Homo sapiens: one gene and its partner. The protein of the gene in region 1 purifies or fractionates together with the protein of each later gene. This does not show direct contact. Each region holds a gene or a part of one and is shown in the gene's direction. Other genes may lie near its edges.

Region 1 (15,777 bases):
ACTCCGAGAGCCCTTGCGCCGCTCGCGGAGGGGCTCCCTTTTCCTGAGGGGTCCTCCCCGTCCCGCCTTGCCACTGGCGGGGTCTGCCTTCCTTGTAATCAACCCCAGGAAGGTGAGGGTCGTGGGTCGGGATTTCGAGTCCCGGACCGCCGGCGGCGCTGGGCTGCAGGCACGCCGCGGTGTTTTGGGTCCAGACCTGTCCCTGACGCGCTGTGTGTCCTAGGGCAAAGTGCTCACCCTCTCTGGGCTTCACATCGCTAGTTCTCAGAAAGAGAGCGCGAGTTGATCTTTCAAATTTAGAGTCCGGGCGAGTAGGGATGGCCAGTTTATGAATGTCTTAAAGAAGTTTATTAAAGGTGCGTGTGGGCATATTTTTTTTAAGCCACTTTCCTGGAAAGATTTTCCCGGTGAGAGGGATGGCAGAAGAGGGAGGCCCTACTAGACTTTGGACCACGTGGAGGTGGGGTGTTGGGGGTGGGCAGCCGGGTGCAGCCTGCCCGGCCAGGGCGAGGAGGTGCAAGTCCGCGCCCCGCCCCCGGTCTCCATCCGCTCGGCCTCGCGTCCGCCCACCGTGGAGCCCACAGTTTACAGAACTGCAAGCCAGGGCACATTTTATTGTTATTATTTTTTAGGGTATGGGACTGGAAGGGATCTCTTTCTGTTCTCGCTCACGGACTCTGGGCGCTGTTAAATTGTTGGTGCCATCGCCCCACCCAAGACCTTCGGGACGAAAACAAAAACCCCCGTGTGCCCCCCGAGGAAAAGGCCCCGAGGGAGGCGGCGCTGAGGCGTCACGGCCTCGCCATGCGCCCGGGTGAAGCCGCCGGAGCCAGGCCTGGGGGCGGAGTGGGGTGGGTGCAGCTGGACTCGCCCGCGAAGCCTAGCCGGAGCCAGGCCCCGACCCGCCCTGGCCGCCTCCAGAGAAACCCTGAGAAGGGAGAGGAGGCCAGCCGCGTGGCGCGCCCAGCCCTGGAGGCCAGGTCATCAAATTGACAAAGTTGGCCACAGCCTGGGGAATGGGGGGTGTCCACGGGGGCCGTGGTCTGGCCTTGTCCCCGGGCCACGGAGAGGCCCCACAACTCCTCTTGTCCTCGCCGGTTGGAGATCAAACGGCTGACAAGGCAGCTGCGTCCTTCCCAGTCTGACAGGCATTTCCAAGTCCTACCCTGGGCCGAGGAGCGCGGGGGGCGGGGTGTGACTTCCAGGTTGCTGTGATTGTCAGGGGCGCCTCCTGGAGTCACCCACCCGAGTATCTGCGGAGATTTGGCCACACCTACTCCTGGGCTGGCAAGTCCAAGTCCCTCTCCCACGTGGAGCGCCCCGGTCCCTTTACCCTCTCGCTTGCCATAGACCCAGTTTAGGAGGTGGGGTCGTGTTTGACCCCAGGAGTTAATCGGGGTAAGGTGAGGGGAGGGGACAAAGATTTGAGTGAAAATCCTTTTCCAAGTGGGACTCAAACAAGGTCTCAAACACTTCTCACCCCCTCACGTGCTCTTGATTCTGTTGTCTTAGTGTCGTTTATTTTGTCATCCTCACCCTCCCAGAGTCTGTAATACCAGGATTTATATGGAGACACTTTTTGGAAGTTGAACTCCAACATCTACTCCCCTCCCCTCGCCGCCCGCGACCATAAAACAAAAGTAAAAACTACCAAGCGACTTTTCCAGGGAAACGAAGCGATTCTTACTGTCCCCCCAACTCCCATGTCGACCCCAACCCTTTTCCACAGTCCACGCCCCCACCCCCAAAGTCCAAGTCCGAAAGAGCTTTTGGGTGGGTGGAGACTTGCATTGATTCAATTTAGTTCACTCACACAGCACCCCGCCCCCCTTCTCAGGGGGTCCTGCTCCCAGGATGGAGGAGATATAAGGACGATTTTTCTTTTATTTTAAAATAAGCTGCCCAGTGGCCCCCCCCAACCCCCTCCCGCTGTTGCGCAGCCGGGGCTCGGGGGAGATGAGCGCACAAAAACGCGGTTTGCACGTGTGTCCGGCTTGGGCTGCGGGTGTGCGCAACTGGCGACTGTGTGTGTGTGTGTGTGAGTGTGCGCGCGCGCGCGAGTGTGTCTCTGTGTGTGCTTTCTTGTTCTCTTACAGGGTACAATGTTAAAAAGCCACCGCTAGTCGCCCCCAGTGCTCCGACTCTCTGGGTCTTTTTGTCTCTAGTGCAGATTAAACGTCACGTCCGCACTTGAACTTGAATTTTATCCCATTGTACAGAGGCAGCCCCAGCCATAGAGAGACCGAGAGCTCCCAGAGAACCCGGACTCCGCCATCTTCACGTTGCAATCTATAGCTCCCAGTCTGCGCCCGCACCGACCCAGGCGCACTGGGCGAGCCGCCCCTCCGCCCCGCTCCCCCCGGGCCCGCGGCGCCAGGGGAGCGCTGGGGAGCGCTCGCGGGGACTCGGCAGCCCCTCCGGCCGGCGCCAGCCTGCCAGGTGAACTGGGAAGGAGCCTCTCCTGGTGTCCCCCCAGAGCCTCGGAAGGGTCAGTCTCCGAGAAAAAACAAAAACAAAAACAAAAACAGGCAGCCCGCAGAAAACCCAGAAACAACCGAACCGGGGCAGTTTTACATTGCTTTGGGTTTTTTGAGGGGGCGGGGTGAGGGGGTACGAGACAAGTCCCCAAGTTTTCTTTGCTTTTTTTTTTCCTTTGCTTTTTCTTCTTTTATTTTTTTATTTGTTTGCATTTTTTTTCCCCTCCTGGTAGAAGTGCGCTTTCCACCTACCAGACCCTGAAAGAAAGTGTCAGGAGCCGGTGCAAAACCCAGTTTAAGTTCAAGAAGACATTTGCAAGTGCAAGAGGCCAAGCAGTTTGAAGAAGTGTAAGAGATTTTTTTTCCTTCGAAAGAATATATTTTTAAAGAAACCAGCCAGTCCGCGGAAAGCAACAGCAGTTTTTTTTTTTTTTGCCTCTTTTTCTTATTTTAGATCGAGAGGTTTTTCTTGCTTTTCTTCCCTTTTTTTTCTTTTTGCAAACAAAACAAAAAACAGCATAGAAGAAAGAGCAAAATAAAGAAGAAGAAGAGGAGGAAGAGAGGGAAAGAGAGGAAGGGAAAAAAAACACCAACCCGGGCAGAGGAGGAGGTGCGGCGGCGGCGGCGGCGGCGGCAGCGGCGGCAGCGGCGCGGCGGCGGCTCGGACCCCCTCCCCCGGCTCCCCCCATCAGTGCAGCTCTCCGGGCGATGCCAGAATAGATGCCGGGGCAATGTCCCGCCGCAAACAGGGCAACCCGCAGCACTTGTCCCAGAGGGAGCTCATCACCCGTAAGTGTCTGCGGAGTGCGCGCGAGGGGCCGGAGATGGGGCTCCGGGCGTCTGGGGCTGGGGACACCGAGCCCGGAACAGCCGAGCCTGGCCAGGCGCCGGGGCCGCCCGCTGGCTGGCAGAGTCTACGGCGTCGGCCTGGAGCATGGCGGGGGGCGGGGGCCATAGGAAAGTTTCTTTGCAGCCCGGGGAGTTGGGGCGCCGAGCAGCCGGACGCGCCTCGGGCTCGGGGGCCTGCGGAGCCGGCTCCGGGCCGGGGAGGGGGCATGCAGGCTGGAGGAGTGTGTGTGTGTGCGCGCCGAGCCCGGCTGGACGCTCGCCCCTCCGAGCGGCGTGTGTGGCGGCGGCGGCGCTGGTGGCGGGGTTTGGAGAGGAGGGGGAGGGGGCTGGGGGAGCGGAGGGGGAGGGGGAGCCGGGAAGTGGGGAAAAGTTGGCGAGCGCGTGGGTCCGCGCTGACGGCGCGGGCGGAGGAGAGCGGGGTGCGTTCCGGCTGGGGGAGCCGTAGGGCCAGGGGCGGCCGCCGGCTCCGGGTCCCCGGTCCCTGCGCCCGGCCCAGCAGGGTGCCGGCCGCGCCAGTCCTAGGATTCCGCAGCCGCCTTTCTCTCCCCTCCTCCTGCTATTTGCAAAATAATCCAGCTGCGCGGCTGTTTGCCGGGCTCAAGCCCCCCTCCCCACCCCCCACTTCCCCACCTCCGTCTGTCTCCTGGGATGATCTTGTCTTCTTTCCCCCACTTCAAAAAAGGTGGGGGGATTGGGGTTGGTGAAAAATCCCCGCCACGAGGAAAAAAAAAAAGGTTGTCAGTTAGGAGTGGGAAGAGAGTGATGCGCTTGTAAAATAGTAAAAGAAAAAAAAGAAAAAAAGGAGACCCATCAATCTCGTATCCATCTTTCTATCTCAGTATCTTTCATCTTTCCTATCTAAATAAACAAGGCAGGTCGCAGTGGAAATCCACCGGCTGAAATCGTGTCGATTTCAAGCATGTGGCTGGGCGGGCAAAGTCAGGCAGCGGGGCAAGACAAGCAGCAGCTTCCACCGTCCCTGTTGGGTTTATTTAGCAGAGGGGAAAAGCGAGCGCGAGCGGGCCAGGTACGGTGTTTGCAGGGGAACCCGCCCCGAGTCCCCGCACACTTGCACCGGGAAGGTGGCTTTGCGGCGCTCCCCGCCCGCCGCAGCCCGCGGGGCGGCTTCTTCGCTGCGCGCGAACATTTCCCCGCCGTTCTTTCTCTCGCGGTGCCTGGGTCGCCGTTCCTTTTTTTTTTTTTTTTTTTTTTTTTTTTTTTTTTTAACTGCAATAGAAATAAAACATCCTCTGGGTGCCATCGAGACCGCGGGCAGGTTATATGCTTGCAATCCGCCGCGCACCTCGCCGGGCTGGGGCCGGGCTGCCCGCGCGGAGCTCGAGAGGGCTGCGCGCCCAGTCACCGCAGAGGACTGGCTGCCGGGCGGCCGAGAGCCGAATATTTATGTTATATTTTAAAAAATTTAAATAAATAAATAAATATATAAAGTGGTTCTCCCCTCCCCTGAAAACCCAGCATAGGAGCCATCTGCTCGGAGCAATTGCTGTTGCCATCTCTCCTTTGTTACAGCAGATACATTAGTAAGAATTTGTGGATTTATTATGATTTTTTTTGGGGGGGGGGGAATAGAAATTAAAGTGGGATTCGCCTTGGGAGAGGGATGCCTCTTTGGAGGAAGGGAAGAGGACTTCTCTTTTATTTTTCGCCGTTGTAACACCAAAGAAGACTCGCCGGCTGCGTTTAAAACAAAATGTTTTGCAGCTAGATTTGAGCTTGGTTTGATCAAGGTCTTTTTTGCCAGTTGACATTTCGATCCTTTACCAAGCCACAGCAATCGCTTATTCTACACCCTTCCCCCTTTAGATGGGGTGGTTGTTAAAACGTCTATACTTGCAGAGGCTTAATTTCTCCAGGAGGCAATTTGCCCCACGTAGCCTCTGTATAATTGCAAGGGTTGTTTTTGAGGAGGGGGAATTGGGGGGGTCGGGGAAGGGGGAGTGGATGGGGGTGCACTGCCAAGCTGGCAGCAGCGGCGAGCCAGGAGTGGTTGCAGTTGTGTGTAAGGGGAAGAAGCAGGTAGGTTCGCTTTGCTTTGGCTCTCCTTCTCCTGGCATTCCTGGGACATCAGGCGAGAGCCCTGGCCAGAGGACTGGTGGCAGCTGGGCATGGGGGTGAGGGGTGCCTGGTGCAGCACTTTCCCATCCTTCATTTGTTCCCTGTCTCGCTCAGCCCTGCTCAGAGCCACGCTGGGGAAAGCCAGCTGACACTGGAGCAGTGGCAGGGAGGGAAAAAGAGAGAGGCAAAGGAGAAGAGAGGTGGAGAGAAAAAGGGGAAGGAGACCAGAGGGCAAAGGAAAGCCGGCCTGCCTTTGAGGGGCACACGGAGCCCAGGCTATGTGTACAGGTTTAAGCTAGGAGAGTGGTCCAACCAGTTTTCAGACAAGGCTATTTATTATCCAAAAGCAGCTGGCTTTTCGTCTGTCCTGTGTCACCTGGGAGGGAGGTGGGAGAGCAAGCAGGGGAAAGGCAGGAATGGGGTGCACTTTAGCCTCTCTGGCCTCTGGAAGTGCCTCTCCACAAATGATGCAGGAGCCGTGGACTCAGGGTGCTTTGGAGCCCTGGCTGGCAAAGCGGGTGCTGTCGCATCCTCTACTTGGAGTTCACATTTTAGATTTTAAATTCCAAAGATACCCCTTAAAACATGGTACATCTTTATCAGTTGGGTGGCAGCTCCTGGGCCTGTGGGGCAGCAACCTCAGGTCCTTCAGGGATGATGCAACTGCAAATAACTGATGGCCTGGGAAACAAGAGGGCACACAAATAGCACGCATGGTCTTTGTGGGTGGGTGGCGGTGGGGAGGGGAGAGGGGGGAGGGAGCGTCTGAGAAGGGCTCCATAATGAGCTAGTTAAATTTACAGACAGGGCCAGGGACAAGAGGAGTGAGGTAAAAAAGAGTGAGAGACAGCTGGTGATGGAAACCTGGGCTTCTGGTTTGCTTCAAAATGTTTGACCCAGATGGATATGGCTTTTAAAAGCAGAGGACAGACACAGCTATTAATAAAAAAACAAACACAAAACAACACAGTGGCAATCGTGCCGAGGGGAGGTTAAGGGGGATCGGCTGACCACGCAGAGGAAAGGGCCAGAGCCCGCTGTGCCAGACAGGGCCAGGGTGAAGGGAAGAGTACTTAAATCCAAGAAGGAGCTTGATGCTTTCTGAAGAGACCAAGGAAAATAAGATGTCCACGGTAAACTGCGTAACCCCAGTCAAGGTGATTTTCTCAACAACCCACCAACAGGTTTCCTAGGAAGATTAGTAATTTTCCGTATGAATTCACGATTTTGTAAAACAACTAGAGACCCAAGCAAGATTCAATGCAAAAGTTAGGCTAACTGTGTTAATTCCATGGTTACCTTTTGAATTAGGTTTTGCTGTAGCTGTGTGTTTTGAAGGCAGCGGTGCTCACAATTATCTTAACTCCCCAGGGTAGAGTATATCTCCAGTGGTCCACATGTCTTTCAGAATTGGGCCTCCGATAAATTTCATAAGACATAGCCCTCTTTTTTTTTTTTTGGTTAGTTGGTGGGGGGGGGGTGAAGTTCCTCTCCCTTCTGCACAGAAGGGAACCCCATATCATTAGAAGTGTGATATAAGTCAGCTGCTCTGATTCAATGGGAGAATAAAAACGTGTTCACCAAAGGTGTTATGCCAGGCTGATTTTATTCATTTGTAATTCACACCTGAGAGAAAACAGCCGTGAGCATATTTTAACAGCCCCTAATATTTTTAAAGGGTCTTTTTTCCCTACCTGAATGATATGATGTACATATGCATATTTCTTTTCTTTTCTTTTCTTTTCTTTTTTTTTGATGGGGAGGTTGCTATCTGCCTGTGCTTGGCCTTGGCGATTTTTTGTCTGGCCTTTGAAATATTTCATAACAGAAAACTAGGCATTTCTGAAGTGCTGGGGTGAATGCAGTTGCTTTTGTGAAGCCGGCCTTAGAGACATCGAGGCTGGGTTAGCTGGTTGGGTGTGTTGTGTCAGTGACCAGTGTGGAGGGCTAAGTGGGTCCTACTCAACCCAAGGGAAGCCCAACTTTGGGTGCATTTGAGAATAATTAGAATTGTGTCTCAGGTGAGACGGAAGCACAGAAAACAGTCGTTTACAGATACCAGTTTCTAGCGCCTTCTCAGAATGGAGTTCTTGGCACTGTCTTATAGCTTAGAACACGGCTTGCACCAGCCTTCACTTATCCCCTTTTCATCTCCTATCTCGATTGCTTTGCATTCTCTGTTGCTTGTTGTGATAAAATACTTTCCAAAATAAACTTTCAGTTGAATTGGCTTTTGGTTGATGGCAAGCTGAAACGCCGAGCCGCGCCTAGCGCCACTTGGCAGCTAGGGGGAGCTCGGTGCCCGTGTCATGGCTTGGCGCCTCCGCTACAATGGGCTAGGAACGGGCTTCCATCAGCAGCGGCGGCAGTTTACGTTGCTGCAAAATACCTTAAGTGTGAAGTTGTAATATTGATTTTCCAGCAGAGATTCGTGCAGGACAAAATGAGAATATAAGTTTGAGAAATCTATTTTCAAGCTATCGCCATTGATTTACAAGCCCTCACTTGGCAGATGGGGGCATTTTCTTTTTCTTTGATTTTCTTTCTTTCTTTTTTAACAATTAAAATTGTGAGTTTTGAATGGGTGTGTTTTCCCTGATTCGTCCGTGGTCTTGACGTTCTGAAAATTCTGCTGCGTTATTAAGGCGCTGGTGATCGGGCTGGGGAGGTCTGGGGAAGGCGTACTGCTCATTTCTGTCTTGCATGTCACAGACCCAGGGAACAGTCGAGAGTTGCTGCTTTTGGGAGTCGTGTACCTAAAACAGCTTGATGAATGGAAATCCTTTTAGCTCAAATTTTATGACACTTGGATTCTCAATTCCATTTATTAGGTAATGTTCCCACTGAACTAAGGGAAATAGCACCGTTCCCCAAAGATTTAAAATGCCGACTCAAATAACATGTAAAACTTTGTTTGGAAAGAGTATGTGATTGCTAGAGCCAGTCTTGATCACATCTTTCACCCCAAACAGTTGTCCTTTATGGATGGCTTTTAATGAGAGGATTTCTCCCCTAAACATGTAATCTAGTGATGGGGAATATATGTGCTTTTGATCATAGGATTTCTAGATTTATAATGTCTTCTTTCCCAAGTTGAAGAAATCTGCAGACTGCACCCTGAGTCTTATGCTAGAGTTCAATATATGAGCAGAAGAGGTTACCCTGCGACAGGAAAGAGTGCTTTATTCTAACCTGAAAGAGAAATAAATTAGGTCAGACAAAAGCCTAGCGCTGTCGTCAGCTGGAGAAAGAGCCTTCACTCTCCAGTACACAGGGCCAGCAATTTATCTGATGATTTCTCTACTTCATTTAATGTTTGAATCGAGCCAGTTGTAAGCATGTAGTGGCAGCGAGCTCACTGGACCACTCAGAGATGAAGAGGCACGGTGACCTCGAAGTCTTGGGCCGGACGGTGGTCTCTGAGCTGCAGAAAACCGTTAAAAATCAGTTTAGCAATCTCCAATCCTTTGCCTTAGAACTCAGGGGAGTTTCACAAGCTGTAACTAAACACAGATCATAGATAAGACAATGCAGGAAAAAATATATGGGGGAGGGAATGGGAGGGGGTCAGGTTCTTGTCCGTTGGAGACTCTCCTTCATCTCCCATGGCTTAAGGATGGACCTTCTGGCTGCCTGGTTAGGCCTCACCTTTAGCTGAAACTCTCCAAAGACTTTGGCCTCGAGGTTAATGTTGGCTTCACATCTGGGGAGGACAAGGAGAAAGTAAATGGTCTTTGGGGACTGTACCCTGCACCACATGGTTGAGTTATTGATACCGGCTGAGCATCTTTCTCTGAAGACGGTGTTAGCTGTAGATACACTTTTGTATTTATTAATGGGGAAGGGTACAGAAGACACTAGGAATGAATGTCTGTGTCATCCAGCTGCCGTGAGTATGCTTTGTCACTTTGCGGCACTCTTTTGACTCAGGCCATTTGGCCTGAGGTCCTGTGCGGCACTCTTTTGACTCAGGCCATTTGGCCTGAGGTCCTGTGTGCTCTGTCCTGTCCCTACTCCCTGATCCCACTCAGCTTCCTTCCGGTCCCAGGGAGCCAAATGTCAGGGAGATGTGCTCAGGCTCGGTCCCCCTCTTGCTCCATCCCTCCCCAAGAAACGCCGTGTGCTGACTGCCTCCCTTGAGCAAGTATGTTTCCCAGGGCGTGGGTAAAAAGTGCCGAGAGCAGGCTATTTGGAGACGCGTGGAAAGAGAAGGACACATTTCTTGCGTCTTCTGCACAAGCCAGTGAGGAGGGTGAGCAGAGCAGCCTTGTTTTTTGCTGGCAAAAGTGACACTAGATGGAGGCTTGATGAATGGTGCCACATTCACGGGATGTTGGTCCAGCATTTTGACATATGCTAGTCTTTTGTGCAGTTGCTGAAAATCAAGAAATTCATTCTTTTTTCTTTTTCTTGTGGCAGCTGATAATTTGCTTGGGTGTTGAATAGCCAGCCTGAGCTATTTTACTGTAATGAAATCCCAGACCACACAAAATTAAGTCACTTCAAAGTAAAAAAAGAAAAAAAAAATCCTCTCTTTTACATAACTTCTTTTTTATGGCCCCCTTCCACTTATTTTATTGAAATACAAATAAATACATTTGTGAAATGTTCTAATGAGTTTTCTACTAAAACAACACGCAGAAATGACTCAAGAAAAGTTGAGTGCCAATATTATTGTGATTAACATGTGCCTCAGAAATGGATGCACTGCTAAGAATTAAAAAAAAGGGGGGGGGCGGTGTCATGTTTAAATTCCTACCTTGGAAAAGAGATGTCGAAAGCACTCCTGCCCTTGCTATTTGCTGTTGGCCTCAGATAATCCAAACTCCTCCAGCTAAAGCCTTGAGGTCCAGTGTCCTGTGTGGAAGCCCTTCTTTTCTTCCGCACCTTTGAAAAAAGCATAATGTTAAATAAAAACAAATCTCTTCATTTGCCCACAAAGAGTGCTTTTTTATCACATCGTTAGGAGCCCGTTGTGGCTCTGAAGATTGAAGGCATTTGCAGTTTTATAGAACCTGCTAAATGTGTTGAGAAGGATTGCTATTGTGGTAAATCTTTTCCTTTTCTTTTTCTTTAAAGCGCCTATTTTATTTGTCAAGACTTTTATTTGTAACCTTTTAGTAATGGCTGAGACCTGTGAATATACCTGAGTATGTTTTCCTTATTCACTTGTTCTTTTTTCTGCTCTTGTGCTGGGGAGACCCAGGCTCCTGGGCTCAGTTTTTGGGGTTCTGGAGAGGTGTGTGCATTATTCTTTTTTCTGCTCTTGTGCTGGGGAGACCCAGACTCCTGGGCTCAGTTTTTGGGGTTCTGGAGAGGTGTGTGCAGTGGGGGAGAGAAGGCGGTTGGACTCCATAGAGCAACTGAGGATATTTTTCAGGGAGCTGCTTAAGCATCCTAAAATTAGGCTGGAGTCCTGCAAACAATCTGTACACAGGGAGACCCTCCCCAAACATTCGACTTTCCCGCCTGGAGTCTGTAGACCAGAAGGTATGGGAGTGAGCCTCTTCCTGCATCTAAAACCTCTTCACGGATCTGGAGTTTCCACCTCCTGGCCTGCAGGCCAGGCCCAAAGTTTCCGCTGCTGGCGGAGTCAGCGGGACCCTGGTCATTTTCCTGGGAAGCCCACACTGGGAAGCATGTTTTGCACCGGCCGCCTTCCCTTGCTCTCCCTCTCACATGTCAGAAACGGCGATCGAGGTGTGTGCCTCAGCTGAGGAGGGGCAGACAGGACCTCATGGGGTGGTGGCTGTGGTATGTATCTGTCCCTCCAGGGAGGCAGCCTTTGGAGGGTGTCAGGAGGGTGCAGAGCTGACCTGGAGCAGGCTGGACTCCTCTGACTGTCTGCTGAGAGGGTCGAGGGTCAGGACAGAGAGGTGTGATCTGGGTCTTGCTTCCTGCTTCAGACTCCGCCTGGCTGTGCCTTCCCAGGGTCCCCACCCCCAACTTGTGTCCTAATAACCCTTCGAGACCCCCTGTGGACATCCTCCTGACACCAGCCTCCCTCTTATCTCCATTTCCTTCTCTGCCAGGCACTTCATTATTCCCTCCGTTAGGGGAACTTCATAAAATCTCTTGTCGTGCCTTTAAGCGTCATCTAGTCATAGATTATTTTCTCCACCAAGAATTGATTCCTGCTCTCTCCCCCTCCACCCTTCTCCTCCCCCCTCCCTACGGTTGTTATTTTCTCTTGGATCCAATAAATTAAAAATGGATGGCAGCTCAGAAAGTGTTGTGCTCCGTCGAGTGTGCGTGTGGTGGCGTTTCCGTGTCGCCTGGAGTCCCAGCCCCTCCCCAAGTGTTCACGGAGAGGAGATGAAAAGATCTCTTCGTAGATTATGGGTAAGCATGGGCTCGCTGGCAAGAGCTCCCTCTTCGTAGGAAGCAGGTGTAAAGTCTCCAGTCGGATGCAGAGCTCGGGCGGATGGATGCTGAACATTTCTTGTAAACATGCGTACACATCATGATGGCGGTTGTGACGTTGGTGGCACACGATTTTAAGAGCCTGGGACCCATCCCCCCACATCCTTCCCTTTCCCACCCCCGTCATCACTGAAACAATAATTCTGTGTATGTTTCTCCTGGACTGTAGCTTAGCCATTAAAGATAAGAGAGTTGGATTTGAATTAATGCAGGGTAAGGAGGAGCAGCAGCCCACGTACTGTGTATGTAGCAATGCACATGTGTGTGTGCAGGCAGCCACGCACATGCCTGTGCTCTGGGGACAGCAGGCAGCAGACCTCTCGGCTGGAGTTCCCCTAAGGGCAGGTGCATGGGCAGTTGTTAGAGATGGGCCAGGGAGGGCGGGGTCCTTGGCACCCTGTGTGTGGGGGAGTCACTGGCCAGGTAAGGCCCTGCTGAAAGCTTGCAGCTGCTGGGGGCTTGTTGGCTGCTTGGCTGGGCCTGTGTTAACGATGTCTTTCCATTTCTTTCTTCTGACTCAAATTCCTTCCCAGCAAAGCCGAGGCATGGGGAAGTTTGTCTTGGGATCAAGTGCTTCCCCTTTCACTTAACAACGATGTCCATTATTATTTGTGATTGCTTCTAAATGCATTTACCAGCTGGGAGGAGGCCTGGCCTTGTAAATAAAATGTGGTTTTGTTGTAAAAGAAAATCTAACTCGTGTGTTTGTGTGTGTGTGTGTGTAAATACAGATTTGTCCCTGCACTTTAGGATTTAGCATTTCAGAATCCGCCTCAGCCCTCTGATATCTGCCTTTCGAACAAGTTGTCTGCTGCATCCATTCATTTTTCCTCTTAATGAGTCAAACATTTCAGCAATTGCTCTACTTTATTCGGCTCATAATATATTGAGAGCAGCAATATTCTGCAGGGCTGCCCGACACTTGGGGAGCTTTTCATGAAAGCAGAGATCATCTCAGAGGAAAACCTCATCTTGGCTTTATTTTTTTAAGGCCCGAGTTTGCTGGACAAGGCTGCATGAGGGGCTGGCCTGTAGGGTCTGGGAATTTGAAAGACTGTTTTCATTGGTCTTTTTCCTGGTGCTTTTTCGTCTCTGGGTGGCAGGTTGGACCACTCTGCCTGTTAGAACAGAGGCCTGGCTCTCTGAGGCTGTGCAGAGCCGGGAGACTCAGGTGTCCATAGGGCAGAGAAAGAGGGGTGTCACTTTGCCCTTCCCAGGGCTTGGCTTTCTCCTTTTATTTCTTCCATTATCGATACAGTTCTAAGGAGGGACACATGCACACATATGCAGGCACCCTACACGCCTAGCTTGGTATCTGCCTGCCAGCGGAAGTGAAACCACAGTCTTTGGGGGTGTCTACAAAGGCCTTGAACGTGAGCTTTCAGGCCCACTTGGTCCACTTACTCTGACCCAGAAATTTGGGGCTGGGGGTGACTCTGCTGCCTGATGTTGAGGGTGACCTTGCTACCTTCCTGGGAAGTGTCGCACACAGCAGGCCAAGGCACAGCGCCACAGCCTGGGTGGTGGGGAGAGGAAACCCCGTTCTTTGGAATCGGGTGAACACCCTGTCATCTCAGGGGTTTAACTTTCAACGCTGAAAGTGGGAGGGGAAGGAGATATTTTTTGTTTGTTTCTTTTCCTCCCAGACTCCCTTAGAGGCAGTGAGTTGGATCTCTGGTCTGGGACGTGGAGATCCCAGCTCAGAACTGAGCCCTGGAGGCCTGGATAATCCCGGGGCTGTCTCGGGGACGCCAACAGGGCCTGGCTCCCAGGTTGGTTGGCTGTTAGGACTTGACGCAGAAATCAGAGCTGCAGCACAGCAAACGGCTTTGGACACCTTCAAACTCAATTACGGGGGCTCGCAGGGCTGCTGCATGAGGAAAGTGAAAAGGCAGAGACTGCCAAAAAAAGGAAAGAATACCAGATGTTACCAAAAATAAAAAAATAAAAAAAAGAGGAGAGAAAGGAAAAAGTGCTGGTACATAGTCTTGGCAAAAGACGAAGCTGAGGAGGAGGGGTGCTTGCGAACAGGCACGTGTGACCTCTGCTAATTTTTAAATTCATCTGTGTTTCTTTTGAATTAGAAAATGAGTTTGAAATTATGTAGTTGAAAACCTCCTAGCAGAGAGGAGATATTTAGGCTTGCTAGAACTCCTACTCAGGAGGGCGGACGAGGCTGAAAAAGTTAATAAAAAAGCAAACAAAAAAGTAAACCGAAGATTAAATTAAAAAAACCAAGAAGACCTCTTCGCCCTCAGAAAGGACGGTCCAGCTGGCCATGTGGATTTGTCGTTGTACGTTTTTATCAAATCTTCCACTGATGCAGGAGTTTGCCAGGCCTGGACAGGGTGGTATTTAAAATAGTACCAGGTACCGCACCTCGCCCCTGTTTCCTTTGAATTCTCAATTTCATTATGTCCTTTTTTGCTTTTCAGCTCATTTCTTTTGTGCCTCTCTCTCTATTTTTTAACAAAACAATATTTTGACATCCTCCTCCCATTTATTAGAGCACCTTCTGTAAAAATGGCGCACAATACATCCTTATATTTCTAAAGAACTGTTTTTACAGTGCTCTCCTTTGGCTCTGAAATTATGTATATGTAATTGGTAATTAAAGGTGCGAGCTTTTCAATATAAACAGTATTGCTCAATGTTAGATCATTAAAGGGAAAAAGAGGCACCAAATAATTACCTTTTACATTCTGACAAACCGTTCACAGGAATCCAGTCTTCCCTAGAACCTCTGTTCGGTGGGAAGGTTGTGATTACATTTTAACCATAGCAAAGCATCTTTTCATAAAATAAATTGGTAAATTAATTACGTGGCATTGTCTTCAAACCCATTTTTAAGTAAACTCCTATTTCTTTCTAAAGTGTAATTAATGGTTTCTGGGACCGGCTTTGTGAGGACTGTTTCTTTACCTTGTAGGTTCTTTTTCTTAGAGAGATGCAGACAACAGATTTAGGATTTCCTCGTCTGCGGGGCGTTTCTGTACTGCCACATTTCTGATGCATTCTGCATTTAATTCATCGAGGGCTCTGTCTGCTTTTCTGTAACCACAGGTGGGATCTCAAATTGTAGTTTCTCTTCTCAGCGATACCTACGTCGCTACCTATTCACACATAGTTCATACGTGCGCGTTGTACGTCTTACATCGTCGTATATTCTGTATTCAGTTTCACACATGGACTCTCCTAGGCCCTGCATAGGCTCGTGTTCAGAAAATAGAGAACAGTGATTTATGTGTAGGATGGGAGATGCCACAGAATTTTTTCCTTAAATTATCTGTTCTTTGGCTCTGGCACTTCAATAACTTCACTGCCACGGAATGTATTTTCCTCCCTCCCATTCCTTCTCGCCGTTCCTCTGTGGTTTTCATTATCCTTCCCTAAATACCATACAACTTAAAATTTACCTGCCTCCTCGGGTTTCAGACCTTTGGCTGCCCTCTGGCTTCCCTGAAGACCCCGCCACTCGTGTCTTCTCTACGACTACTGACATTTGCTCTCGAAAAATTCCAGCCCGAATTTGCTCAGACCCCGAGGGGAATATGAAACCTCCACACTGTCCACTTCTCTTTATTTATGACACTTTTGGCTGCCGAGTCTTCCAATTTTCCCTTGAGGAGGTTGCTGCTTTTTGAGGCATTTATTAGCTTCCAAATATTTGGGTCCTAGGCTCCCTACTCTCTCCCCCACAAAAAAAACCCAAGAGAAATCTATCGGCTGCTAAAGAAATATAAAAACATACAGTCCATTGAAAGTGTGGTTTGATATCTTCCAAGAAATGCTTTTGGAGTCTGGAGAATTTTCTTTCTTTCATTTTTCTGGGAGTGAAAATAAAATCAACAAACAGAAAAGGACAGTGGGGAGTTGATGAGTGTGGGGGAAATCTACAGAGAAATGGAAGTCTGACCGGGCCTCGGGTGCTTGGCAGGAGAGCCTGCTTCCC
Region 2 (15,777 bases), on another chromosome or scaffold:
TCCTGGGTTCAAGCAATTCTCCTGCCTCAGCCTCCTGAGTAGCTGGGATTACAGGAGTGCATCACCACACCTGGCTAATTTTTTGTATTTTTAGTAGAGACGGGGTTTCACCGTGTTGGCCAGGCTGGTCTCAGAACTCCTGACCTCAGGTGATCTGCCCACCTCGGCCTCCCAAAGTGCTGGGATTGCAGGTGTGAGCCACCGCGTCTGGCTGATTTGGGTTTTGATGGAAGGGGCTGAGGGGGCTCCGGGGATCCCTTCTTTCAGCCCCAAGGAGCTTTAGTTTCTGGGGTTCTGTGTCTGGCATCACCATGCCAAGTCTCTGAAGGGAGCCTGGTGGGTGAAGTGACAAGGGTCAGAGTCTGTTCCCTGTCCTGCTCCATCTGTCTGGGCCATCAGGATCTCGGGAGGGGCTCCTGGCCCGCCCCTGTCTGCCCAGCCTGCCTTGTTTTCTCATTTCCTCTCGCGCTCCAGCTGCTGAGCTATCGATTCCATGAGCTGCTTATTCAGAGCTTGGAAAATTGAAATAGATTTTCCGCGGCGCCATGGAGGGTGCAGCTGGGCTCCTAGCTCCATGTCCGTGTGTGTGGTGTGGCCAGAGGACGGCCTGGGGAGAGGCTGCCTCTGTGGGGTGTGCATCCCTGCCTCCAGGCCCCCCTTCCTTCTTGGGTCATTACTCCCCAGGTAGCTAATTGCCCTGTGGCCAGCTCCATAAAAACAGCCTCAGCCCTGCTGGCCCTTGCTGGGGTTGACTGGCAGAGGTGGGGCAGTCTTGGGTGGGACCAGCATTGCCTGGCTGGCAGGTGGGAAAAGGCCTTTTGGCTCCAAGACATCCTTTGGGGGCTCAGGCATGGACCACAGGTGGGCGGCTGTGCCTTCAGTGGCCCTGCTGGCTGTGGGGGATGGCTAGTGCCTCCTTTCAGTGGTTGGAGACGGTATAGGGGATCCTCCCAAAAGGGCCACATTTCTGTGGGTCATGGACAAGGGGCAGCAAGGCGGTCAGGGCAGCCTCCAGTCAGAGCCGTCATCTGGTTTTTGCCTCACTTGCTGTGTGATTTTAAGCAAGGGGTTTACCTCTCCAAGCCTCAGGCATCTCATCTGAAACGGGGTGATGGTAGAAATGACCCTTTCCTTATTGGGTAACCGAGAGCTCAGTGAGATGATGGCAGGAAGCAGGCCGTCAGTGGTGGCAGTGGTTGGCTATCATCACTGCTGTTTTTCAGGGCCTGGAGTGAGGAAGAAGATCAAAGGCTCCAAAGATGGGAAGAAAAAGGGCAAAGGGAAAAAGACGGCCGGGCTCAAGTTCCGCTTCGGGGGGATCAGCAACAAGAGGAAGAAAGGCTCCTCGGTGAGTGTGTGCGTGTGTGCGCGTGTGTGTGCATTTGCATGCATGTGTGTCTGCACATGAGCACGCAAGGGCCAGGCGAGGGCCTTCAGTTCATTACAAACTAGCTGGGGCAGGTCGCACCCCTCCACTATTCTCCTTCCATCCTACATGCAGGTGTGCTGGGCCTCAGTTTCTCCATTTGTGTGATGAGGAGTTTAGATTGAATCCTTCCAAGGGCCCTTCTAGCCTGGACTCTGGGCAGGGAGTGCTCCCCTGGCTCACCCTCCTGAGTGGGAGCTCAGTCCTGGCTCCTGCTGTCCACAGCTGCAACTCCATTTGGGCAGGAGGTGGAGGGATCTGTCCTGGTGGGGCCTGGCCGCCCAGCACCCAGGTCTGCTCTCGGGGGGAGTAGTTGGGTGGGGGCTGGACCCTAGAGAAGTGGTATGTGGGTAGGATCAGGCTGGCTGGAGCCCCAGTTACCTCCTCCTGTCCTCAGGGCCAGCTCTGGGCCCAGGCTCAGACACTAAGCCCAGGTCTTACTCAGCCTTGGGGCCCCCCTTTCTCTGTGAGTGTGAGGGGCATTCGCCCTCCTCACCCCCACAGGTAGCTGCCTCCCTCACCTCACCCCAGCCCTGCGGTGGGTGGAGTTGGAAGCTCTTTCCCTGCACCATGGCAGGAGCCAGTGTTAGGTCTGGAGGGGAGCATGGAGAGAAGGTGTGGCCCGCCCTGGAGCTGACGGTCCAGTTCAGCTTAGCAGATATTTGTTGAGCACATACTGTGTACCAGGCCCGCTGCTCAGCCACAGTGGGCCGTGGTCCTGTAGCACTCGTCACCTGGCAGGCATGTTTGCTGGTGGAGAGCCCGTGATGTACCAGTCAGACAGGACAGGCCAGACCTGGCACACACGCAGCCACAGTAGGTCCAGTAAAGGAGAGATCTGGGAAGACTTCTTGGAGGAGGTGTCCCTAGGGCTGCCCCTTGAAGGATGTTTAGGAGTTTGGCAGGATGGAGGGCAAGGCCTGGGAAGCTGTTCAGAGGTGGAAATTGTGGGAAGTGTCTGAGGCTGGAGAGCAGGGCTCTGGGTAGGCGGTGGGACATCAGGCTGGACAGGCAGGCTGTAATGTGAGGTTTTCAGCTGTGTTGGGGGCTGAGATGAATCACAGAGAGCACTGTGTCTCCAGAGCCTCTTCCGTGCTTTGTCCCACCCCACACTGCCTGGGCCAGCGAAGCCTTCTGGGTGAAGCCCTGGGATCACAGGACCCTGTCTTCCCCTGCAGAGTGAAGAAGATGAGAGGGAGGAGTCGGACTTCGACAGCGCCAGCATCCACAGTGCCTCCGTGCGCTCCGAATGCTCTGCAGCCCTGGGCAAGAAGAGCAAGAGGAGGCGCAAGAAGAAGAGGAGTATGACTCCCCTTCCAGAGAGTTCTTGGCCTGCTGGGTGGATGTAGTGGGGCACGAGTAGGACTCCCCATCTGGACGGTTCTCGGCCTGCCGGGTGGATGTGCGGGGCATGGAACCTCCCCGTGGGAAGCAGGGGGAGGGCATCCTCATGTCTCAGCCAGGTGGGGCCCCTGTGTTTCCCACACGGCCCTGGTTTCTACTGTCTGGGGAGGGGCATCCTGTCCCAGTAAGGAAAGAACAAGGAACCTATGGTGGGAGCTACCCCAGGGCATTTGCATTAGCAGTGTGGTGACTGGAGAGGGAAGTGCTTCATCTCATCGCCATCCTCCCTTCAGTCACCCCCCACCCACTTAACACCCATCTTTACCTCACCTTCCTTCCCATCCCTCCTTCTCCCTCCTTCCCTCAGTCCCTTCTTTTTATCCATCCATCCTTCATCCATCCAGCCATTCATCCATCATCCATCATCAATCCATTTGTCCATCCATCCGTCAGCTATCCATCCACCATCCATCCATCCATCCATTCATCCATCCTTTTGTCCATCCGTCCGTCCGTCCGTCCGTCCATCCATCCATCCATCCATCCATCCATCCATCCTATCATCCATCCATCCACTTGTCCATCCATCCATCCATCCATCCATCCATCCATCCATCCATCCTTTTGTCCATCCATCCATCTGTCCATCCATTCATCCATCCCATCCATCCATCCACTTGTCCATTCATCCATCATCCATTTGTCCATCCATCCATCATCCATCCATCCATTGTCCATCCGTTATCCATTCATTTGTCCATCCATTATCCATTCATTGGTTCATCCATCCATCTACCACTCTGTCCATCCATCATCCATTTGTCCATCCATCATCCATTTGTCCACCCATCCATCCATTTGTTCATTCATCTATCCATCCTTTTGTCCATCTATCCATCCATTTGTCCATCTATGCATCCATCCTTCCATTTGTCCATCCATTACTCATCCATTTGCCCATCCATCCATCCATCCATCCATCCATCCATTTGTCCATCCATCCATCATCCATTCATTTGCCCATCCATTCATCCATCCATTTGGTTTATCCATATATCCATCCATTCTTTTGTCCATTCATCCATCTATACATCCATCTATCCATCCACTTGTCCATCCATCCATCCATCCATCATCCGTCCATTTGTCCATTCATCATCCATCCATCCTTCCATCCACCTATCCATCCATCCATTTGTCCATCCATCCATCCATCCATCAGTCCACCCATTTCCATTTGTCCATCCATTTGTCCATTCATCATCCATCCATCCATCCATTTGTCCATCCATTCATCTATCCATCCATTTGTCTATCCATCCATCATCCATTTATCCATTCATCTTTCTACCCATCCACCCACTCTCCTACCCTTCCTTCCTTCCTTCTTTCCTTTTATCCATCTTCTATCTCCTCACCCTTTTACCACCTCAACCATCAGTCTATTCACCCACCCACCTTTCCATCCACCCTCTATTAGACATCTACTCTGTGCCTGTCTGGCCTGGGGCGATGCAGTTGGTTGTGTGCTGGGAGTGTGGATGAGGACTTCCATGACTGCCTCTCCCCTACCCTAGTTGATGATGGTGACGGCTATGAGACAGACCACCAGGATTACTGTGAGGTGTGCCAGCAGGGTGGGGAGATCATCCTGTGCGACACCTGCCCGAGGGCCTACCATCTCGTATGCCTGGACCCAGAGCTGGAGAAGGCTCCCGAGGGCAAGTGGAGCTGCCCCCACTGTGTAAGCCTTGGCAGAGCCCCGGGCTGGGGGCGGGGCCACGCCTGGCTCCCCCACCCCTGTGCCCTCATTTGGGGGCAGAATGCGGGGAGATGCTGTAGGGGAGGGAGGGAGTCGGGCCTGGTGGAGCGGGGACCCCGCCCAGGGTGCCTCCACCTGGCCTCCTCCCCCAGGAGAAGGAGGGGATCCAGTGGGAGCCGAAGGACGACGACGATGAAGAGGAGGAGGGCGGCTGCGAGGAGGAGGAGGACGACCACATGGAGTTCTGCCGCGTGTGCAAGGACGGGGGCGAGCTGCTCTGCTGCGACGCCTGCCCCTCCTCCTACCACCTGCATTGCCTCAACCCGCCGCTGCCCGAGATCCCAAACGGTGAATGGCTCTGCCCGCGCTGTACTGTGAGTGTTCCGCCCGCCCCGCGCCGGACGCCCCGCCCCACCCCAGGAACAGGCCCCGCCCCCAGGGGAAGGCCTGCCCTCCTCAAAAGGCCCCGCCCCTGCCGGCTCCTGCCCCGCCTCGGTAGCCGATCCCGCAAAGCTTCGCCCGCGCTGCTCGAGACCCCGTCCACAATAGCTTCCTCGCGCCCTTCTCCGCGTCTGACTCCCCTAGAGACGGGAGGCATGAGTGTTAGGGAAAGGCAGACAGGTGTGGTGATCATGCCAACACCGCGACCACTGTTCAGTGACCACGTGCTCTGCAAGGGCTCCACATCCATCATAGTGTCCTTTAACATTACTGAGTATTCTGGCACCAGGCATGTTACTCCCTTTTTAGATGAGAAAACTGATGCTCAGGGAAGCAGAGTGACCTGCCTAAGGCCACACAAGGGCAGAACTATCCACTCAAATTCAGGTTCCTGGAGCCACCCCAGACCTGGCTCCTGTTCCAAGGCTGGGGATAGGGAGAGGGCAGGAGGCTTCTAGGGCAGGAGGCTCCTAGGGCGGGAGCCTCAGTTTCTACAGGAAGAGGGGCACCCCCCATCCGTCACCCCCCAGTCACAGTAGACATCGGAAGGCCCCTTGCTCTGAGCTGTCTGTCCTGCCCCCTGTGGTGCCAGATCCTCCACCCCTCAGGTCCTGGGCTGTGCCTCCTTTAGCCCTGGGCCGTCCTGTGTGCATTGTGCGTGTGTATGTGTGTGCGTGCATCCGTGCGCATACTTGTCTGTGTCTGTGTAGGGGCCAGGGGAGGACCCTTTTGAGGGGTGCAGCCTTCTGTGCTTTCCTAGGATTGATGGAAGGCCCTGGGGATGGGAGGGGGGCAGGAGTGGGGTTCCTCTCAGCTTCTTCCCTGAGGGGCTGGGATGGGGGTAGGAGGGTCCATGGCCTGGGTAGGAAGGGTCCCCTCTTCCACTCCCCCAAGAGCCAGTGGAGGAGCCTTTCCTGCCTCCCATGTCCTCCTCCTCCTCCTCTGCCTCTCGGCCTTTGCTGTCACCAAGGCCAAAGGAAGGCTGGCTGTGTGGTGTACCTTGCACCTCCAGAATGCCTTCAGGTGTGATGTGGCACCACAGATCTGGTAGGTGGAGGAAGGGGTGGGCCATTTTACAGATGGGAAAGCAGGCTCTGGAGGCTTGGATGAGTTTCCGAGGACAGGTAGTAGCAAAGCTGGGACCTGCTATCCCCACCAGAGCTGTCTCCCTGAATCAGTCACCCCCGACCCTGTCCAGTCAGACAGCACCGCCTCCTTGGAGGGCCAAGGCTGCTCCCACCCATCTCAGGGCCCGAGTGGTGTGGTTTGTGGCTGTTGTATTTCTTGCCTTTGCCAGCCAGCAGCTCACTGTCACCCTAGCATCTGTCAGGGCCCCTGCAGTGTGTCTGTGGGCTGCCAGAGATGGGGCCTCATTGTCCCAGCCTAGACGCACGGTGCCTGGGTGCAGCCCTGCCCCGGGTGAGGGATGGTGGATGGGGCTGCCGTGTCCCTGGGCTCCAGCACAGGGCTCATGCTCCCTGAGTGCTTGGGGATCACACAGTGATGTGACCTCTTTTCAGGGGGCAATGGGAAGACCTAAGGTAGGGGAAGTCCAGAATCTCATGTTCTGCTCCCTGCTCTGCTGTCCCTTGCCGAGTGGGCCTCAGTTTCCCCCTCTGTCCTATGCACATGGCAGTCTCACCTACGCTGGCTCAGATATTCTGGGTGCCGATAAGTTCACCATTGAGTGAAAGGGCCACGTGGTCTCACAGACCCCCACTGCCCATCTCCTGTGTGCATGACCCATGCGGCTCCTGGGGACGGGGTGGATGTCATGGCGTCACCGTGGTACTGTTCTGACTTGGGGGCAGTGGCACTGATGGGAGGGAGCCTGCATGGCAGCCTGCTGTCATGGGAGCCTCAGGGTGGGGCCCTGCAGCTGAGCCCCACCTTGGGGACCCTTCTCTGTCCACAGTGCCCCCCACTGAAGGGCAAAGTCCAGCGGATTCTACACTGGAGGTGGACGGAGCCCCCTGCCCCCTTCATGGTGGGGCTGCCGGGGCCTGACGTGGAGCCCAGCCTCCCTCCACCTAAGCCCCTGGAGGGCATCCCTGAGAGAGAGTTCTTTGTCAAGTGGGCAGGGCTGTCCTACTGGCATTGCTCCTGGGTGAAGGAGCTACAGGTGAGTGCCCGGGAGGGTGGCTGTGCTAAGGCCCGGGACCTGGTGAGCCCTGGACCCTCCTGGGCTGGCGGGAAGGGGCTGAAGCGCCTCTGACTGAGGGGTGCTGTTGGGAGTTGGGGTGGTGCTGAGCGGGAGGATTGTCCTGCCTGGGACCTGGGCTGGGGCTAGAGGAGCTGGGTAGGGAGATGCAGGGGACCATGGCCCATCTCCCTTCTGTGACTTTGTGCCGCTCCATGAGCAGCTGGAGCTGTACCACACGGTGATGTATCGCAACTACCAAAGAAAGAACGACATGGATGAGCCGCCCCCCTTTGACTACGGCTCTGGGGATGAAGACGGCAAGAGCGAGAAGAGGAAGAACAAGGACCCCCTCTATGCCAAGATGGAGGAGCGCTTCTACCGCTATGGCATCAAGCCAGAGTGGATGATGATTCACCGAATCCTGAACCATAGGTGTGTGCCTGCAGGCGGCCACCCTGCCCATCGCTGGGGCCGGGCCACGTCAGCTTCTTTGCCCTGTAAAATGGGTGCAGCGCAGGGTGCCAGGGCCCTTGCTTTGGGGCTGCCGTGCAGAACCACATGTGGGCACAGCAGGGGCACAAGGAAGGGCCCAGGGTTCCCAGTGCTGGAGATCTGCCTGACCTGCTAGAGGGGCCGTCCCATGCATGCCGGCACACTCATGCATACGTGTTCACACCCCTGGGGCGTCGGGACCCTCATGCTGGGTTAGTGCTTGATACCAGCAAGAGGGTTCTGAGGACGAGGGACGCCCGAGGTGTGGGAGTATGTCCACATTTCCCCCGCGTTTGTAACAGCAGCTGGCTGTACTGAGCACTGCCTACCCTGGGAGGGAGGCGTCTTACTTTCACCTCTGTTTTACTGATGTGAGAATAGGCACAGCAAGGTTAAGTCGCCAGAATCACACAGCCACGGGGTGGAGCTGGGATTTGAACCCCATGCTTTCTGACTGCAGGACCTGCTTTCTTAGCTACTGTTGCACCCCCCAGTGCCCCAGCAGCAGCTCTTCCTGGAGCAGTCTGGCAGTTCCCTGGGATGCCTTAGCAATCAGAGGCTGCAGGAGGCTGGCACAAAGAGCCAGAGGCAGGAGGCCCGTGGGCTTTGGTTTTGATTTGGTGGGTGGTGGGAATGCCTGCTGATTCTTGAGTTGAGGTGCTTGAGAACTGGTGGTGGCTGACAGATGGGCCTTGGGGTGGGGCCCAGAGTACCTGCTGCCTGGTGGCAGCTTGGAGCTTGTGCTCCCCATCCCAGCTACCCTGTGGCCTCTGTTTTTGAGGGGCTTAGGATCGGTGGCCTCTGACACTCAGTGCTTCTGGCTTCAGGCAGCTGTTGGGTAGAGCAGAGGTTAAAAGCCTGAGCCAGATGTTCAGATTTCAATCCCGGTTCCCATCTGCTGAGCTTTGAGGCCCTTTTAGGGAACAGGCTGCTGCACGGGTGACAGGAGCTTGCCAGAGGCTGGCTGTGGGTGGTCTTCAGTACGAGGGTCGCGGAATTTGAAAAACTGCCCCCCTTCAACTATGGGACACCCCCCTTTTCCTCCCCAGGCCTCCCTGAGAATGACCTTCAAGGGTCAGTTCCTGTGGGAACCTGAGCCCGGCAATGAATTGGCCCATGGTTTTCTACCTTTACTAAATTACATGCTAAAAATATACATGGTAGTTTTTCTCTCTGCCCCAAAGTGGGGCAGGTGAATCTCCCCCAGATTTGTTCCCCCAATCTGCAAAACAATCAATTATGTATGGGAAAACAAACAAACATCGGTTGCCGTGGTAACGGGATCGGTTTTTCTCTTAATGTTCCCAGGCCCGCAGCAGCCGCTGCTCACCGGGTCTGTGTGCCTCCTCGGCACTGCTGTGTGGGGTAGTCAAGCCCCAGCCCGGCCCTCCAGCACTCCTCTGGCCTGGTTGCCTTAGCCTGGGTGGGTGGGAGGCCCTAAAGACCCTCCCAGTGGCCAGAATCAAGCTGTGTGCTGCTGGGCTTGGTCACTGGGTCTTTGTGTCCCCAGAAGAGACCACCTCACACGCAGGAATTGCATCCTTATCTACTTTGCAGAGATGACTCCTCACCCTACGTGGGCACTGCACAAGTCCTTTGCGTATTTTAAGTTAGAAAACTGAGTCCATTGGCAGGAAGGAGAACTTTCCAACTTAGAAATCCAGAACTCCTGTGAAAATCCAGACCCTGTGACAAATGGGATTCATCCCTGCCACAGAGGCTGCAAAGGATGTGGGAGGCTGGCTCATTGCTCCTCTGTTAGCTGGCCTCCGTGTCCCTCTCCAGCTCTGCCACATCCCCCTCTCATTCGCTGTGTGGCCCCAGGCAAGCCGCTGCACCTCCCTGGAGCTTCTGCCCTCGTCTCCTCCTCCTGGCTGGGCCCAGCATCCGAGGGGACCCTGGGTGTGAATGGCTCTGCATCCTGGGAGGTGCCCTTCATCAAACCTGTGCTGTGGCCACTGCTCTGAGCGACCCACATCTGTTCACCGTGTTGCAGCTTTGACAAGAAGGGGGATGTGCACTACCTGATCAAGTGGAAAGACCTGCCCTACGACCAGTGCACCTGGGAGATCGATGACATCGACATCCCCTACTACGACAACCTCAAGCAGGCCTACTGGGGCCACAGGTGGGTCGCAGGGATCCGGCTGCTAGGCACAGGCTGCCGGGACCTGCTCCTGGGCTGAGCCTTGCTCACCTGCCTCCAATGCCGTTTCCCAGGGAGCTGATGCTGGGAGAAGACACCAGGCTGCCCAAGAGGCTGCTCAAGAAGGGCAAGAAGCTGAGGGACGACAAGCAGGAGAAGCCGCCGGACACGCCCATTGTGGACGTGAGTGGGGAGGGTGGGGCAGCAGTGGGTGGGGTTGCCAGGGCCTGCCCACCTCAGACTTGAATGTGCAGGGGGTGTGTGTTCTCAAAAGGATGTTTCCTTGGGCCCTCATGGCTTATGCAGACAGTGTCATGCCCATGTAGGCTAGGACAGCTGGAAGGCCCCTCATAACACTGCAGCTGACATGCTACTTACACACCACTCTCACCTGGGAGGAGACCCAGGATGACTCACTCAGCAGAGCTCCCTGGGTGTCCACTAGCGCCTGGCCCTGGGTTGGCCCTGAGGAGACGAGGGCCAGTGAGCCCTGGGTAGCTGTTTCAGAAGACACACTGTCTTCTAGGGGCCCTTGGTGGGTATCCACAGAACACGGAGGGCCTGGCCTGGGACTATCAGGCGCCTGTCAGATGCTGGGGAAAGGCAGATGGGCCTGGTCCATTGGGAGGACTGCATGGGGCCAGTGACCTGGAGCAGGATCAAGAGACAAATGGGCCGGGCATGGTGGCTCATGCCTGTAATCCCAGCACTGTGGGAGGCCGGGGTGGGAGGACCGCTTGAACCCAGAAGTTTGAGGCAACGTAGTGAGATCCCACCTCTACAAAAAATTAGCCAGGCACGGTGGTGTGCCTGTGGTCCCAGCTACTAGGGAGGCTGAGGTAGGAGAATCCCTTGAGCCCAGGAAATTGAGGCTGCAGTGAGCCATGATTGTGCCACTGCACTCCAGCCTGGGCAACAAAGACTCTGTCTCAAAAAAAAAAAAAGTAAATGTCTGGATCCAGTGGAGGAGCCTGTTACTGGGGGCGTTGCGAATGCCCCAGATGGATGTTCGTTTTGTTGTTCATCCAAAAAATGGTGAGTAAGTGACCACATGTCCCAGGCACTGTGTGGTACTCAAGAGGAGGCAGTGAACAGGACCAAGGTGGTGATGACAACCTGGGCTCAGAGTCAGAGAATTCAACAGTCGGGAAATTTCCCTGATAGGAGAAGTACAGGGCTGCCATGGGAGGACACTGTGGGAGCACTTCAGCCAGGCTGGGAGTCAGGGAGGGCTTCCTAGAGGAAGAGGTGTTCCATCCAAGAACTGGAGAAGAGTTAGGAAGACAGACAGGAGTGGGAAGAGTGTTCCAGGCAGAAGGAATTGCATGTGCAAAGGCCTGTAGTGTGGACTCTGGTGGCCCAGGATCTGGGGCGTGTCTGAACCGCTGCCTCCCCTGCAGCCCACGGTCAAGTTCGACAAGCAGCCATGGTACATCGACTCCACAGGCGGCACACTGCACCCGTACCAGCTGGAGGGCCTCAACTGGCTGCGCTTCTCTTGGGCCCAGGGCACTGACACCATCCTGGCCGATGAGATGGGTCTGGGCAAGACGGTGCAGACCATCGTGTTCCTTTACTCCCTCTACAAGGAGGTGGGCAGGCGGGGCAGGCGGCCAGGAGGGGTGGCTGGTCCTGGCCAAGGGCAGGTGGTCTCACGGCATCGGCCTCTCTCTCCAGGGCCACTCCAAAGGGCCCTACCTGGTTAGCGCGCCCCTCTCCACCATCATCAACTGGGAACGCGAGTTTGAGATGTGGGCGCCCGACTTCTACGTGGTCACCTACACGGGGGACAAGGAGAGCCGCTCGGTGATTCGGGAGAACGAGTTTTCCTTTGAGGACAACGCCATTCGGAGTGGGAAGAAGGTATTCCGTATGAAGGTGAGGGCTCGCTATCCTTGGAAGGACGGTAGGAAGGCCCCCGGTCTAGTTCAGGGACCACGGGTGCCGTGCACTCCTTTGGGGTCCCTCAGCCTGGGAGGGCTACCGAGGCCGGCAGGCTCTGAGGGGCTTGTCCTAGAGGCTGAGTTACAGCCATGTCAGTTTTCTGGGGCTCCTGTAACAAAGTGTCACAAATGGAGTGGCTTCAAACAGCAGAAATGTATTCGGTCACAGTTCTGGAGGCTGGAGGTTGGAAATCAAGGTGAGGGCAGGGCCACGTGCCTCTGAAAGCCCTAGGGGAGAACCCTTCCTTCCTCCTTCCAGCCTCCTGGTGGCGGCAGGGGTTCACTGGCCTACAGCTGTCGCGTCAGTTTCTGCCTCTGTTAGCACATGGGGTTTTCCCGTTTGTGTCTGTTTCTCATCCTATAAACACATCATTCATACTGGATGTAGGGCCTACCCTAATCCAGTATGATCTCATCTTAGCTACTTATTTTATTTATTTATTTATTTATTTTTTTGAGACACTGTATCGCCCAGGCTGGAGTGCAGTGGGGCGATCTCGACTCACTGCAACCTCCCCGTCCTGGGCTCAAGTGGTTCTCCCACCTCAGCCTCGTGAGTAGCTGGGACTCCAGGAGTGCGCCATCATGGCCGGCTAATTTTGTATTTTTTGGTAGAGACAGGTTTCACCATGTTGGCCAGGCTGGTCTTGAGCTTGTGACCTCAAGTGATCTGCCCTTCTCAGCCTCCCAAAGTGCTGGGATTGCAGGAGTGAGCCACTGTGCCTGGCCCCAACTAATTATTATTATTATTATTATTAATTATTATTATTATTTTTTTGAGACGGAGTCTCACTCTGTCGCCCAGGCTGGAGTGCAGTATGGCACGATCTCAGCTCACTGCAACCTCTGCCTCCCGGTTCAAGCAATTCCCATGCCTCAGCCTCCAGAGTCGCCGGGATTACAGGCACATGCCGCAATGCCCAGCGAATTTTTTGTATTTTGGTAGAGACAGGGTTTTACCATGTTGCCCAGGCTGGTCTCGAACTCCTAAGTTCAGGCGATCTGCCTGCCTTGGCCTCCCAAAGTGTTGGGATTCCAGGTGTGAGCCACCACGCTCAGCCTATTATTATTATTATTATTATTATTATTATTATTTTGAGACAGGGTCTCGCTCTGTCACCCAGGCTAGAGTGCAGTGATTGATCATAGCTCACTGCAGCCTTGACCTCCCGGGAGCTGGGACTACAGGTACACACCACCACACTCAGCTAAGTTCTAAATTTTTTGTAGAGATGGATTCTCCGTATGTTGCTCAGGCTGGTCTTGTACTTCTGGGCTCAAGTGATCCTCCTGCCTCAGCCTCCCAAAGCATGGGGATTATAGGCATTGAGCCACCATGCCCAGACAACTAATTATGTCTGCAAAGACCCTATTTCCAAAAGAGCTTCTGGGTGGACATGAATGTTGGGGGGACACTATTCAATGCAGTGCACCAGCTGTGTGACTTCTGGCAAGTCACGTGGCCTCACTGGGTCTCAGTGTTTTCTCAGCAAAATGGAGTTAACAGACACACCCCACAGAGTCAAGTGAGTTAATAAGCATGAGGTCTCATGGTGCTGTGAACCCTGCAAGGTCTTGTTAAAGCACAGTCTCTGACCCAGCAGTGCTGGGGTGGGGCCCGAGCCTCTGCATTTCTTTTTCTTTTTCTTTTCTTTTTTTTTTTTGAGATGGAGTCTCACTCTGTCGCCAGGCTGGAGTGCAGTGGTGCGATCTGGGCTCACTGCAACCTCTGCCTCCCAGGTTCAAGCGATTCTCCTGCCTCAGCCTCCCAAGTAGCTGGGACTACAGGCGCGTGCTACCACACTCAGCCGCTTTTTGTATGTTTAGCAGAGACTGGGTTTCACATGTTGGCCAGGATGGTCTCGATCTCTTGACCTCATGATCCGCCCACCTCGGCCTCTTAAGGTGCTGGGATTACAGGCTTGAGCCACCGCACCTGGCCTGAGCCTCTGCATTTCTAAACCCTCTCCACATTGAGGAATGAGGACTTGTAGCCATTGGCCCCTAGAAGATGTCAGTGCTACAGCCTTGGGGGCTGGTGGATCCTCGCACAGGCCCTCCGAGTCCCTCAGGTCGGCCTCCTCCACTGCCTCCTAGCAGCTGTGGCTCTTAGAGATGCTCGGAAACTGTTGAATGAGTGAATGAATCGATGATCCCACAGGTGACTTTGTAGATGGATGAGCCCCTGGATCATCAGACGCAAAAGAACCTCCCCTGAGCCACACTGGGACCCTGCCGTGTGCCAAGCACTTTGCTGATTTGGCTCTTCTATTTTATTGTTAAGAGTTGTGGTAAAATACACATAATGTAAAACTTACCATCTTAACCGTTTTTAAAAGTACAGTTCAGCTGGGCACAGTGGTGTGCACCTGTAGTCCTAGCTACTTGGGAGGCTGAGGCAGGAGGATTGCCTGAGCCCAGGAGTTCGAGGCTGTAGTGCGCCATGATTGTGTCTGTGAATAGCTGTTGTACTCTTGCCTGGGCAACATAATGAGACTCTGTCTCTTTAAAAAAAAAAAAAAAATCAGCCGGGCACGGTGGCTCACCCCTGTGATCCCAGCACTTTGGGAGGCCGAGGCGGGTGGGTCACCTGAAGTCAGGAGTTTGAGACCAGCCTGGCCAACACGGTGAAACCCTATCTCTGCTAAAAATACAAAAATTAGCCAGGCGTGGTGGTGGGTGCCTGTAATCCCAGCTATTCAGGAGGCTGAGGCAGGAGAATCGCTTGAACCTGGGAGGCGGAGGCTGCAGTGAGCACCATTGCACTCCAGCCTGGGCAACAAGAGCTAAACTCTGTCTCAGAAAAACCAAAACAACAACAACAACAACAACAAAACAACAACAGAACAGTTTAGTAGTGTTAAGTACATTCACATTGGTATGCAACCAGTCTGCAGAACTCTTTTCATCTTGCAAAGTGGAAACTGTCCCCATTAAACATGAACATCCCCACCACCTCGAGCCCCTGGCAGCCACCCATCTACTGTCTGTCTCCACGAGGTTGACTACTCTGGGTACTTCATATGAGTAGAATCGGGAAACATCTATCTTTTTGTCACTGGCTCATTTCACTGAGCAGAATGTCCTTGAGGTTCATGCATGTTGTGGCACGGGTCAGAATTTCCTTCCAAGGCTGGAGAACCCCCATCACAGGGATAGACCACATTTTGTTTATCTGTTCATCTGTTGTTGAGCACTTGGGCTGCTTCTGGCTTTTAGTGGTCGTCAGTAACGCTGATGGGAAGGATTATGGGTGTGCACATATCCCTTTGTGTCCCTGCTTTCCTGTCTTTTGGGTATACACCCAGAAGTGGAACTGCCGGATCATATGGTAATTCTATTTCTGATTTTTTGAGAAACAGACTTAGCTCTTTGAGATCTCATAGCATTCTTCACCTAGATAGGCGAGGAGACCGATGCTCGGCTAAAAGATTGTGTGCAAACCCAGGTGCCACGTGCAGGCAAAGCCTATGCTGCACGGCATCCTCGGCCCTCTCTGCTCTCTCACAGGCATGTGGGCTGCTGGGAGAGGCAGGCTTGGTGCAGCACAGGACAGGCCTACATCACTGGGGGAGACCGGTGCAAAATGAAAATGCAGGGCTCGCAGGAAAACAGCTTTTTCCTTTCTTCTGTGGTCTCTGTCAACATGCCAAGGTGTTTTAAATTTGCTTGCTTTTTTTTTTTTGGAGACAGAGACTCACTCTGTCACCCAGGCTGGAGTGCAATGGTGTGATCTCGGCTCACTGCAACCTCTGCCTTTTGGGTTCAAGTGATTCTCCCGCCTCAGCCTCCTGAGTAGCTGGGACTACAGATGTCCACCAACACGCCTGGCTGATTTTTGTATTTTTTAGTAGAGATGGGGTTTGGCTATGTTGGCCAGGCTGGTCTCCAACTCCTAGCCTCAAGTGATCCTTCCACCTTAGCCTCCCAAAGTGCAGGGATTATAGGCGGGAGCCACTGTGCCTGGCCTAAATTTGCTTTTTAAAGTCGTGTTCCTTCAGGTGTGGGGATCCTCACCGGGAGAGTGCAGACCCTCACAGGCACCAGGCCCTGTCCTGGAACTTGGTGCATAGACCGGGT

The links.
Region 2: the proteins of BCL11B (region 1) and CHD5 purify together in Homo sapiens (affinity purification with mass spectrometry; 2 studies listed by BioGRID and IntAct, with this or other methods). This does not show direct contact.

The regions. Positions count from the first base shown.
Region 1 is NC_000014.9:99,258,650-99,274,426, reverse strand, and holds the start of BCL11B (B-cell lymphoma/leukemia 11B), read left to right. Parts: upstream 1-2,229; 5' UTR 2,230-3,208; coding exon 3,209-3,266; intron 3,267-5,326; exon of another isoform or gene 5,327-5,363; intron 5,364-15,777. UniProt on the Homo sapiens protein: Key regulator of both differentiation and survival of T-lymphocytes during thymocyte development in mammals.
Region 2 is NC_000001.11:6,137,983-6,153,759, reverse strand, and holds part of CHD5 (chromodomain-helicase-DNA-binding protein 5), read left to right. Parts: intron 1-1,223; coding exon 1,224-1,348; intron 1,349-2,604; coding exon 2,605-2,728; intron 2,729-4,347; coding exon 4,348-4,514; intron 4,515-4,684; coding exon 4,685-4,906; intron 4,907-6,888; coding exon 6,889-7,095; intron 7,096-7,336; coding exon 7,337-7,548; intron 7,549-9,604; coding exon 9,605-9,736; intron 9,737-9,828; coding exon 9,829-9,937; intron 9,938-11,154; coding exon 11,155-11,346; intron 11,347-11,431; coding exon 11,432-11,632; intron 11,633-15,777. UniProt on the Homo sapiens protein: ATP-dependent chromatin-remodeling factor that binds DNA through histones and regulates gene transcription. May specifically recognize and bind trimethylated 'Lys-27' (H3K27me3) and non-methylated 'Lys-4' of histone H3.